3 linked regions of the Homo sapiens genome follow. Changing the gene in region 2 together with the main gene of any one other region gives a genetic interaction. Each region holds a gene or a part of one and is shown on either strand. Other genes may lie near its edges.

Region 1 (3,500 bases), on a different chromosome or scaffold from region 2:
TGGGCCAGTCTTGTGCTTTCCAGTCCAGAGGCTAGAGCTGGGAGAATGCCTTGGGAGGAGGAAGAGTTCTGATGAAGGCTGCAGCTACTCTCTCCCTGCCTGGCCAGGCTCCTGAAGGGGGCCAAGTACTTCCAGCCTGGAGTTTGTGGGTGGAAGAAAGAAGATGGCCATGTGGGACAGGAACTGCTTTACCCCCTCACTCTGCTGAGTCTGGAGGTTGGTGCTTGCTCACCACTTGGGGCAGGTCATCTTCCCTCTCTGGGCCTCAGTTTCTACATAAGTAACAGGGTGGAATGTAGGTTGGGCTAGATTCCCTCTAAGGGCCTTTTTAGCTCTAAATTTCTCTGAATCTATTTGCATCCACAGGAAGTTACATAAACACATACACTCATACATGGATCAAAGTCTTTGTTTACCTCCAGGGTTCCTAGCTCTTTCCTGTTCAGCAAAAGAAATTTGGCTCAGGATGGATGAAGGGGGAAATAGGCAAATACTACTTCTCCAGGTAACCAGTAGCCGAGCAGCCTCCGCCAGCTGTCTTTTGTGCCAGCTTGGCTGTTGAAGCCCAAGTAACTGGCAGAGACTCCTGCCATGCCATTCTCCTTCAAACCTCTGTCATCTGCTTGCCCACAAATGTCCTCGTCCCATTCTCCATGCAAGCATTGGTCCTCTGGCAAATTCACACCAACATAATTCCAAACTGCACATCTATTTCCACATTCTCTCATCAGTAAATTGCTTTGTCACTTTGCCAATGACTTAGCAGCAATAGGGCTCCCCAGCTACCTATTGCTTCCCTCATCATCCCTCGCCCTCTAGAGTTCCTTTGGAGGGTTCAGAATGAATCAAGGGTCCAGTGGAGATCCTATTTCCTTTATCATCCCCTCCATGTCTGGAGAATAGAATGGTATCAGGATGCTCTTTAGGGGCACAATTAGGAAGACTTTTCCTCCTCTCTCCTCACACCTTTCTGGCCTCAGAACCAGTCCTCTCTTTCAGGTCTTCCCTCCATCCCTGAGAGACCCTGGTAGTATCAAAGTCTCTAAGGTATGGTGGAAAGAGATAAGGAGTCACACTAGTAGTTGTGGGAAGCAGGCTGGCTCCTGTAAGCTGTCTGTAGGGTAATGAAAGGAGGACTTTGCCCACAGTAGGGGCTCTACACATGATGGTTGGCTGGTTCCTAGGATGGGTGAAAGAACATAAAGGCCACAAGTTCTGTGGGTCCCAGAGGCCTGCTGCTCCAACATTGTGCCAGGAAGATTCTTCTGAACACAAGAGCTCTAAGGCTGTTCGCTGTTTTCCAAAGAAATGTCTGACTCTTTTTGCCACAGAGCCCCTGGCAGCCGAGAGGACGGGTATTACCATCGAGGAATGAAATCAGGCATCTCTGGGTTTCTCCCCGGAACTCTCAAGGATTTCAGTTCCCAATTACCACTTTTATTGGTTCTCTCTAGACCTCAAATTCCACACAATGCTGTGGTGTAATGGAACAGCTTTGGAGTCAGACCTGGCTGAAGCTCCAGGTCTGCGGCTTAAACTGGTCAAAACACTCTGAGAGTGCTACCTCTCTGAGCCTCATCTAAACAATGATGTTTGTCATATTATCAGCCTTGCCTTCTTCAAAGGAGATAATACAAGAGAAATTATTTTCCAAACATGAAGGAGTGGTTCTTGTTGGTTTCTGCTACAACTGCGGACTGTCCGAGGCACTTTATAGGAGTTAGGGCCAGACACATGCCTGGAGTTCACCTCACCTTGGGTTGCAAGGCTGTCATTAGCAACCAGACAACGGAGGCCTAGCCCATCACGTCTCACCCTGACCCTTGAAGGGCCAAGCAGTGTGGTTGCTTAGAAAGGGAAGGCACAGCTGAGAAATAAGTACCCGCTGTTCTTGGTGAATTTCAGCTGCCTGAAGGAAATTATTCCCCATCTCCTGAAAAGGAAACACATTTCAGGAACAAGAGGAGCAGACTGTACAAGGCTGGCCTTCCCAGGTTTGGGCTGGATCTAGCACCCAGAAACCAGGCTGAGCCCAGGCACTTTGAAGTAAGGCTCTCGAGGGTCCTACCATATGATCTGTTGGGAAGCTTGGGGTTTAGGGGAAGGTGAATTTGGACCTGAACTAGGGGGCAGATCCCTGCTCAGTGCCTAGACACTGGCTTCTCCTGAGCCTGGCTTTAGGGGAGCAGCATGAGCACCTGCGGTGACAATGCTCTGCTGTGGCTTTTTGAAGCCAGAGTGAAGAAAGACTGGGTTAGTACAGCATCAGCTGCTGGCCTTTCAGATAAGGCCTGGCCTAACGTCCACTTGGGTTGCAGCAAACTTGAACAAAATCCCTCTGTCCTATCCTCACCCCTTGCCCTTTCTAGGCCAGGTAAAAAGGCTCTGCCTTGCTAATGCCCAGGAGCAGTCTAGGATTTGGGAATTTAGAAGGCTGTGGTGAGGGCTAAGAGTCACAGGTACTAGAAATTGAAGGGACTTCTGGAGGTCATCCCGTCCAACCCTTCGTCCCCAGACAGAATTTGATTAGGAATGGATGAAAAACATTTGTACTGCTTAATAAATGGAAAATTCTGTTTGTGCCCAGGTAAGCTAAAGAATATCCCAGACTCACATGACCACAGGTCCCAGGTTAGGCACCTGTCTCAGACAGAGGTAGGCTCCATGGAGAAAGAAGACAGGAGTTCTAGTCAGGCTGGGAATGGGGGCAACTAGAAGGTGACCCCAGGGAATTTTCTGAGTGTGGAGCACAGCTGTAAATAAAATGAGAGTCATGTGACCCAAGTACGGATTCAGGGTCTTAGGCGGGCAGGTTTGTGGCCATTCCCTGTGATTGTTCCAAAGCACAGCAAACTTCCCAAAGCCCAGCAAGCTGCCACGGTGTGGCTGTCAGCTGGAGTGGGAAGAGCACTCCAACCCTCCTGCAGGCCACAGTATAGAGCAGAAAGAACATTCCCACTGCCAAGGATGCTCCTTGGCAGGTTTCTCTTATGGTCTCTGCCAAAAGCACCTGCCTTTTCCCTCTCTGGCCTTCTTCTTAGGCTGCAATGCTCCCTTCCCACTCCACCCCAGCCACTACCCTACCCAAGAGAGGAGCAGCAGCCCCCTTGGGGTCAGATGTCCACCCCCAGAGTCTGGAGTGCACCTTTGCTTTCTCTGGCCTGCTGCCCTGGATCCTCATTTTAGTGCAACAAACAATAGATCTGACAACAGGGACCTCGGGGTTGAAGAGTCATGCCATAAGTCAGTCAACATGGAACCAAAGAAGGTTCTGCTTCATGTAAACCCTGGGGCTCCATCAACTGTCCTGTTAACTCAAGGTCATTCTGGAAAGTCAAGCAGGCCTTGTCACCCTGGAGTCACTGGGGAATAAATAACACTGGGGCATTTCTCTGCGGCTGCAACACCAATACACCTCACTCCACAGCAGCACTTAGAGGTTCTGGGAGTCCTGGCTCCCAAACCCAGGGAAGGGGCACGGACAGAGGCAAAATGGGGGG
Region 2 (3,500 bases):
GGTCTCAAACTCCTGACCTCAAGTGATCCACCTGCTTCAGCCTCCCAAAGTGCTGGGATTACAGGCGTGAGCCACCACGCCTGGCTTCCCTTGCCCTCATTCTGATTCTTAGTCATCACTCCTCCTGCACCAGCCTCCTCACTGGCCTCCCTGCCTCCAGCCTCTCCATCCCAGGCCACACAGCCTCCCCATGTGGTTCCAACTCACCCATAACGGGTCTCCTTCTTTCGCCGGTGGACAAGGAAGAGAGCCAAGATGAGGACACAGGCAGCGGCCACGACTGCTCCTAGCAGTACATACCACCAGGGCCACGAGAAGGCAGGAGTTGAAGGTTCCTTCACTATCAGGGGGTATGAGGAACAGGTCATGGATGAAGCCTTGGATCCAGCTCTCTGGGACCCAAAGGGGTGATGTGGGAGGGAGGCAGAAGGCCTCGGCAAAGATGTGCACATACTTGATGAGGTGTGTGATGGATGCATTCACATATCTGAATGGGCTGGGCTGGACAGGGCATGCAATGGATGTGATACAAGTGCAGGTTAAAGCAGAAGTGTGTGAAAGTTGTAGGATGGGTGAGTTAAGAGTGGGATGGAGGCCAGGTGTGGTGGCTCATGCCTGTTATCCCAGCACTTTGGGAGGCCAAGGCGGGTGGGTTACTTGAGGCAAGGAGTTCAAGACCAGCCCGGCCGACATGATGAAACCCTGTCTCTACTTAAACAAAATATATACAAAAATTAGCTGGGGTGGTGGTGCACACCTGCAATCCCAGCTACTCGGGAGCTGAGGCAGGAGAATTGCTTGAACCTGGGAGGTGGAGGTTTCAGTGAGCCGAGACTGGGCCACTGCACTCCATCCTGGGTGACAGAGCAAGACTCCATCTCAAAAAAAAAAAAAAAAAAAAAAAAAAGAGAGTGCCAGGATAGTTCAGGTGGTAGAGCATCAGACTTTTAACCTGAGGGTTCAGGGTTCAAGTCTCTGTTTGGGCGTTTGCAGTTTTCCTTACTTTAAGCTACCAAATATTATGCCACCAAGATCCAAAAAAACAGAAGAGTGGAATGGATATTTGAGGAGTGTGCAGTGAGTGTGGAATGGGAGGGAGAGATGTGTGGAACGCGTTATGAGTGTGCCAAGAGGGCTAGATGAACATGAGATGGGTGTGGAGAAATCTCAAGCAGCATAGGTTAGTGTGAGAAATGTGATGATTGTGCAAGAAGGGTGGACTAGAGTGTAGATAAGCAGGTGAGTGGGGAAGAAGATCCTTGCAGTGTAGGATGGTGCATGAAGCGTGTGCAAGGAGGGCGGACTAAGGAACATCTTTTGAAGAGAATGCAATGACTACAAAAGGGTTTTCTTTGTCTCTTTTTTTGTTTGTTTGTTTTTTGAGACAGGGTCTCACTCTTTCACCCAGGCTGGAGTGCAGTGGCCCGGTCTCAGCTCATTGCAACCTCTGCCTCCCAGTTTCAAGCAAATCTCCTGCCTCAGCTTCTAAGTAGCTGGGATTACAGGTGTGCACCACCATGCCCAGCTAATTTTTGTATTCTTTTTTTGGTAGAGACAGGGTTTCACCATGTCTCCTGAGTAGCTGGGACTGCAGGTCTGTGCCACCTGGCTAATTTTTTTTTCTTTTCTTTTTCTTTTCTTTCTTTTTTTCTTTCTTTCTTTCTTTTTTTTTTTTTTTTGAGACAGAGTCTTGCTGTGTTGCCCAGGCTGGAGTATAGTGGCATGATCTTGGCTCACTGTAACCTCCGCCTCCCAGGTTCAAGCAATTCTTGTGCCTCAGCCTCCCGAGCAGCTGGGATTACAGGCTCGCACCACCAGGCCCAGCTAATTTTTGTATTTTTAGTAGAGATGGGTTTTCGCCAATGTTGGCCAGGCTGGTCTTGAACTCCTGACCTCAGGTGATCCACCTGTCTCAGGCCTCCCAAAGTACTGGGATTACAGGCGTGAGCCATTGCACCCGGCCACAATGGTTTCCATAAAGCCAGGAATGAGGGTGAAATAAATATCCAAAGGGGCATGGTAAGCATATACAGGGTTGGATGGCTGCTGGAAAAGTTGGGGGTGTGTGAAGTGGGAAGAGTATTCGTGAAGTCTTAGATACAAGGAGTGAGCAAGGAATTTTAAGGATGTAATTGCAGTGTGAGAGAAGTGTGCAGTGAGCATGCAAAAGATGTTAGAAGGGCAGATGAGAAGTATGGGGTGCACAGAAAGGGGGTGTAAAAAGGGCAGGGGTGGAATGGAGTGTGTAAGAAATAAAGATCATTATGTGCTGAGTATGCAAGGGGTTCAGGGTGAGTGTGCAGAGTGAGATGGGTTGGGATTAGTGAAGGGTGAGGGAATGATGTCTATGGAGTGTGCAGTAAGCATGCAAGGAGAATCGGGTGTGGGAAAGTTGTGGACAATGTTTTTCAGTGTTTGCAATGTGGAAGGTATGGTAAGTGCATACAAGGTGTGCAGAGTTTGTGAATGAGAAGTGTGTTGTGCAATGGGCCTTTGGGGTCATGTGGGAGGAACGGATTATAATGGGATATATGTGAAAGGAGGGTGGAATAAGCGTGGAAAGCGTATGTGAAGAAATGTAGGAAGGGATGTGAGGAGTATTGAAGGCTAGTGGGTTGAGTTACAAGAGTGAACCATAATAGTGCCCAGAGGGGACAATGGGTGTAGGAGGAATGTTTGAGAATTGTTAGAGAAATATTTGAGAGGGATGGATGTGAGGAGGATACCTCATTCATCCATCCATCCACCTTTCTACCCATCCATTCATCCACTCACAAATCCATCCATCTGTCCATCCATCCATTTATCCAACCATCCATTCATCCATCCATCCATCCATCCATCCACCCATCTACCCATCCATATATCCACTCACCACCCAGTCATCTTTTGTTCATCCACCTATCCACCCATCTATTAATCCATTGACCCACCCACCCATCCACCCTCCATATATCCAACCATCCATCCATCCACCCTCCATATATCCACCCACCCATCCATCCACCCATCCATCTACCCATCCATTTATCCACTCACCATCCAGTCATTTATCTGTTCACCCACCTATCCACCCTCTATTCATCCATTGGCCCACACACCCATCCATTCTCCATATATCCACCCATCCATCCATCCACCCATCCATCTACCCATCCATTTATCCACTCGACATCCAGTCATTTATCTGTTCACCCGCCTATCCATCCTCTATTCATCCATTGACCCACCCACCCATCCACCCTCCATATATCTATCCATCCATCCATCCATCTATTTGTTCATCCATCCACCCACTCATCTGTCATTGCCTGAATACCTACAATGTGCTATGCTAGGCCATTATAGGCACCTCCATCAAGGACCACACAAACTCAAGAAGTAGGTTAGAGTGATGAGTTAGAGAAACATGAAAGGGATGTGCAATGAGTATGCATGGTGACAGTGCCCCCACTAGGTGTTGAGGGTAGGGAAGGAGGAGATGGGGTGTGGAAGCCCTT
Region 3 (3,500 bases), on a different chromosome or scaffold from region 2:
CATTTAGAGCAGTGTCTGGCATGTGAGTATTTGCTGCCATCATTAGGATAAACACTCAAATCCTTCAATAGCTCCTGTGGCCTGGCCCCTGCCTGACCCTCTCAGTTCCAGCTTATACCGGTCTCTCAGCTCCAGCTATTCTGGCTCATTCTTGCTATTCTTTGAAAACTCCAAAATCTTTCTAATCTCTGGATCTTTGTCCCTGCTGTTTTTTTTTTTTTGTTGTTGTTGTTTTGTTTTGGTTTTCTTTTTCTTTTCTTTTTTTTCTTCAAGTTCTTGCTCTGTCACTCAGGCTGGAGTGCAGTGGCACGATCACGGCTCAGTGCACCCTTGACCTCCTAGGCTCAAGTGATCTTCCCACCTCAGCCTCCTGAGTAGCTGGGACTACAGGTTCATGCCAGCACACCTTGCTAATTTTTTGATTTTTTTTTTTTTTGGTAGAGATGGGGTTTCACTATGTTGCCTAGGCTAATCTTGAGCTCCTGGGCTCAAGCAATCCTCCTGCTTCAGCCTCCCAAAGTGCTGGGACTACAGATGTGAACCACTGTGCCCGGCATGCTGTTCTTTTTGGAGGGACTCTTCTTTCTCTCTCCCACCCCTGTTTCACCTGGTTAACGCTTAGGCATCTTGAAGAAACCAGACCAGGCACTAACGAACTGGAGGAGGCCAAGGTCCCTGTACTTCCTCAAAGCTCTTATTATCCTTCATAATTATAGAGTCTTATGATTATTTACTTATCTATCACTCCAGCTAGACTATAAATTCTGTGAGGCCAGCAGACCTTGGCTGTTTGCTTATTACTGTATTCCCAGTGCCTAGTACAGAGTAGGACCTTGGTGAATATTTATTATTATTATTATTTTGAGAAGGAGTTTCGCTCTGTCACCCAGGCTGGAGTGCTGTGGCACAATCTCGGCTCACTGCAACCTCCGCCTCCCAGGTTCAAGCGATTCTCCTGCCTCAGCCTCCCGAAAAGCTGGGGCTACAGGCACGCACCACCATGCCCGGCTAATTTTTTTTTGTATTTTTAGTAGAGATGGGTTTTCACCATGCTGGCAGGCTGGTCTCGATCTCCTGACCTCGTGATCCACCCGCCTCAGCCTCCCAAAGTGCTAGGATGACAGGCATGAGCCACTGCGCCCGGCCGATGAATTTTTTTTGATAAATAAATAAACAAACAAATCAACATACACTTTGCCCGCAATGCTTTCTGTCCTCTCTCAGGTGTTCTTAGGCCCGTTTTACTGATGGGGATGCGAAGGCCCTAAGAGGAGAAGCAGTTTGCCCAGGGTCACAGAGCAAGTTCATGATTCTCAACAAAGGGCTTCTACTGCTTCACAGGCTCAGGATTTCTTTTTTTTTTTTGAGACGGAGTCACTCTGCTGCCCAGGCTGGAGTGCAGTGGCGTGATCTCGGCTTACTGCAAGCGCCGCCTGCTGGGCTCACGCCATTGTCCTGCCTCAGCCTCCCGAGTAGCTAGGACTACAGGCACCCGGCACCATGCCCGGCTAATTTTTTGTATTTTTAGTAGATACAGGGTTTCACTGTGTTCACCAGGATGGTCTCGATCTCCTGACCTTGTGATCCACCCGCCTAGGCCTCCCAAAGTGCTGGGATTACAGGCGTGAGCCACCGCGCCCGGCCCAGACTCAGGATTTCAGGCTGGAAGAAACTTTACAAGGTTGTTTGCTTCAAAACTCTACCTGATGCTCTGCCCTCTACAGCAGGGCTTGAGTGGCCTATTTTTGTATAGCCTAACAACTAAAGATGTTTCTTACATTTTAAAAGAGTTAAAAACAAGCAAAGCAAAAACCAAATAAAAACATGCCACAGGGCTGGGCGCGGTGGTTCATGCCTGTAATCCCAGCACTTTGGGAGGCCGAGGTGAGTGGATCACCTGACGTCAGGAGTTTGAGACCAGCCTGGCCAACATGGTGAAACCCCATCTCTAGTAAAAATACAAAAATTTGCAGGGCCTGGTGGCAGGTGCCTGTAATCCCAGCTATTCGGGAGGCTGAGGCAGGAGAATCGCTTGAACCCGGCAGGCGGAGGTTGCAGTGAGCTGAGATCCCGCTACTGTACTTCAGCCTGGGCAAGAGAGTGAGACTCCATCTCAAAAAACAAAAAAACAAAAACCAAAAAACATGCAATAGGCAGGGCGTGGCGGGTCATGCTTGTAATCCCCATACTTTGGGAGGTCAGGGCAGGTGGATTGCTGGAACCCAGGAGTTTGAGACCAGCCTGGGCAACATGGCAAAACTACATCTCTACAAAAAAATACAACAACAAAAAAAAATTAGCTGGGTGTGGTGGCATGCCCTGCACTACCTTGGAGGCTGAGGCGGGAGGATCACTTGAGCCCAGGAGGTTGAGGCTGCAGTGAGCTGCGATTGTGCCACTGCACTCCAGCCTGGGCAACAGAGGGAGACCCTGTCTCACAAACGAACAAACAAACAAACAAACAAACAAACAAGGAACAGAGACAGTATGTGGCCTGCAAAGCCTAAACATTACTGTCAGAAAAAGTTTGCCAACCCCTGCTGCACAGCATCTTTATCAATCCTGGCTTTAGCTTGCATACCCCTGGGGATGGGAAGTTCTCTACCTCTCAAGACAGAGTTTCCATGGTTGGAAACCAAGCTCTGCCTGGGCTTCTTTATTTCAGGATGAAACCTGTCCCCTTGTAGCTTCCATCCTGATCCCTTTGCTGCCCACCAAGGCTGCATAGGACCCATGGGTTGCTTCTGACAGCTTGGTAGAGATTTGCGGACAAGATCTGCGCCTCACTGGCCTTTTCCAGGATGACCAGCCCGGGTCGTCTCACCATTCCTCTTGGGTGGTGGTTTGCCTGTGGAAGTCTGTGGGTGGGAGACCAGCTACCCCACATCTGTGGCTCAGACTTGAATCTTGTGGGATTCTCTGGGAATCCCAGGAGCCATGTGGCAGTGCAAGGAAATTCCCAATATCTCTCCTTGTAGCTTCCCCTCCCCACTGCACCCTCATCCTTGGCCATACTCACTTCCGGGGAGCAGCAGGATGATCAGGGCAGCCCAAGTCAGGCTGCAGTTTCCCAGCCTTGCCATAGCACCAACTTGATGTTCACCTGTAGGCAGAAGGGTTGTTTAAGACCATGGGCTTTGGAGTCAGAGCTGATCTTAATCCTTGTCTGTCACTGTGCAGCTTTGACTAGGTTGCTTGACTTCTCTGAGCCTTCGTTTCTTTGCAAAATGGAAGTAACAGCAGCCTATACTGCATGGGACTTTGAGAGGAAGACACAAAATGATGCAAGTCAAGGGCTTTTCACAGTGCCTGGAACATAGGAAATGACAGTGACAGCCACAGTTATTATACTTGCCTTCCAGGAAAGAGCAGGGAAAGGAGCAGTGAGGAAGAGCATTCTTCCGCCTTCCCAGCTATCTAAGCTAGGCTACCCCTAGAGAGCAGAACCTGAGATGAGGAATTGCATGCTGGTAGTTTATTTTGAGAAGATCCTAGCAGCA

The links.
Region 1: changes in AXL (region 2) and EDA together harm fitness less than expected from each alone (positive genetic interaction), as found in Homo sapiens cells (one large-scale study listed by BioGRID).
Region 3: changes in AXL (region 2) and CSF3R together harm fitness more than expected from each alone (negative genetic interaction), as found in Homo sapiens cells (one large-scale study listed by BioGRID).

Annotation. Positions count from the first base shown.
Region 1 is NC_000023.11:70,035,613-70,039,112, reverse strand, and holds part of EDA (ectodysplasin-A), read right to left. Parts: 3' UTR 1-3,500. UniProt on the Homo sapiens protein: Cytokine which is involved in epithelial-mesenchymal signaling during morphogenesis of ectodermal organs. Functions as a ligand activating the DEATH-domain containing receptors EDAR and EDA2R. May also play a role in cell adhesion.
Region 2 is NC_000019.10:41,239,723-41,243,222, reverse strand, and holds part of AXL (tyrosine-protein kinase receptor UFO isoform 1 precursor), read right to left. Parts: intron 341-3,500; coding exon 208-340; intron 1-207. UniProt on the Homo sapiens protein: Receptor tyrosine kinase that transduces signals from the extracellular matrix into the cytoplasm by binding growth factor GAS6 and which is thus regulating many physiological processes including cell survival, cell proliferation, migration and differentiation.
Region 3 is NC_000001.11:36,476,414-36,479,913, forward strand, and holds part of CSF3R (granulocyte colony-stimulating factor receptor isoform a precursor), read right to left. Parts: intron 3,104-3,500; 5' UTR 3,084-3,103; coding exon 3,020-3,083; intron 1-3,019. UniProt on the Homo sapiens protein: Receptor for granulocyte colony-stimulating factor (CSF3), essential for granulocytic maturation. Plays a crucial role in the proliferation, differentiation and survival of cells along the neutrophilic lineage.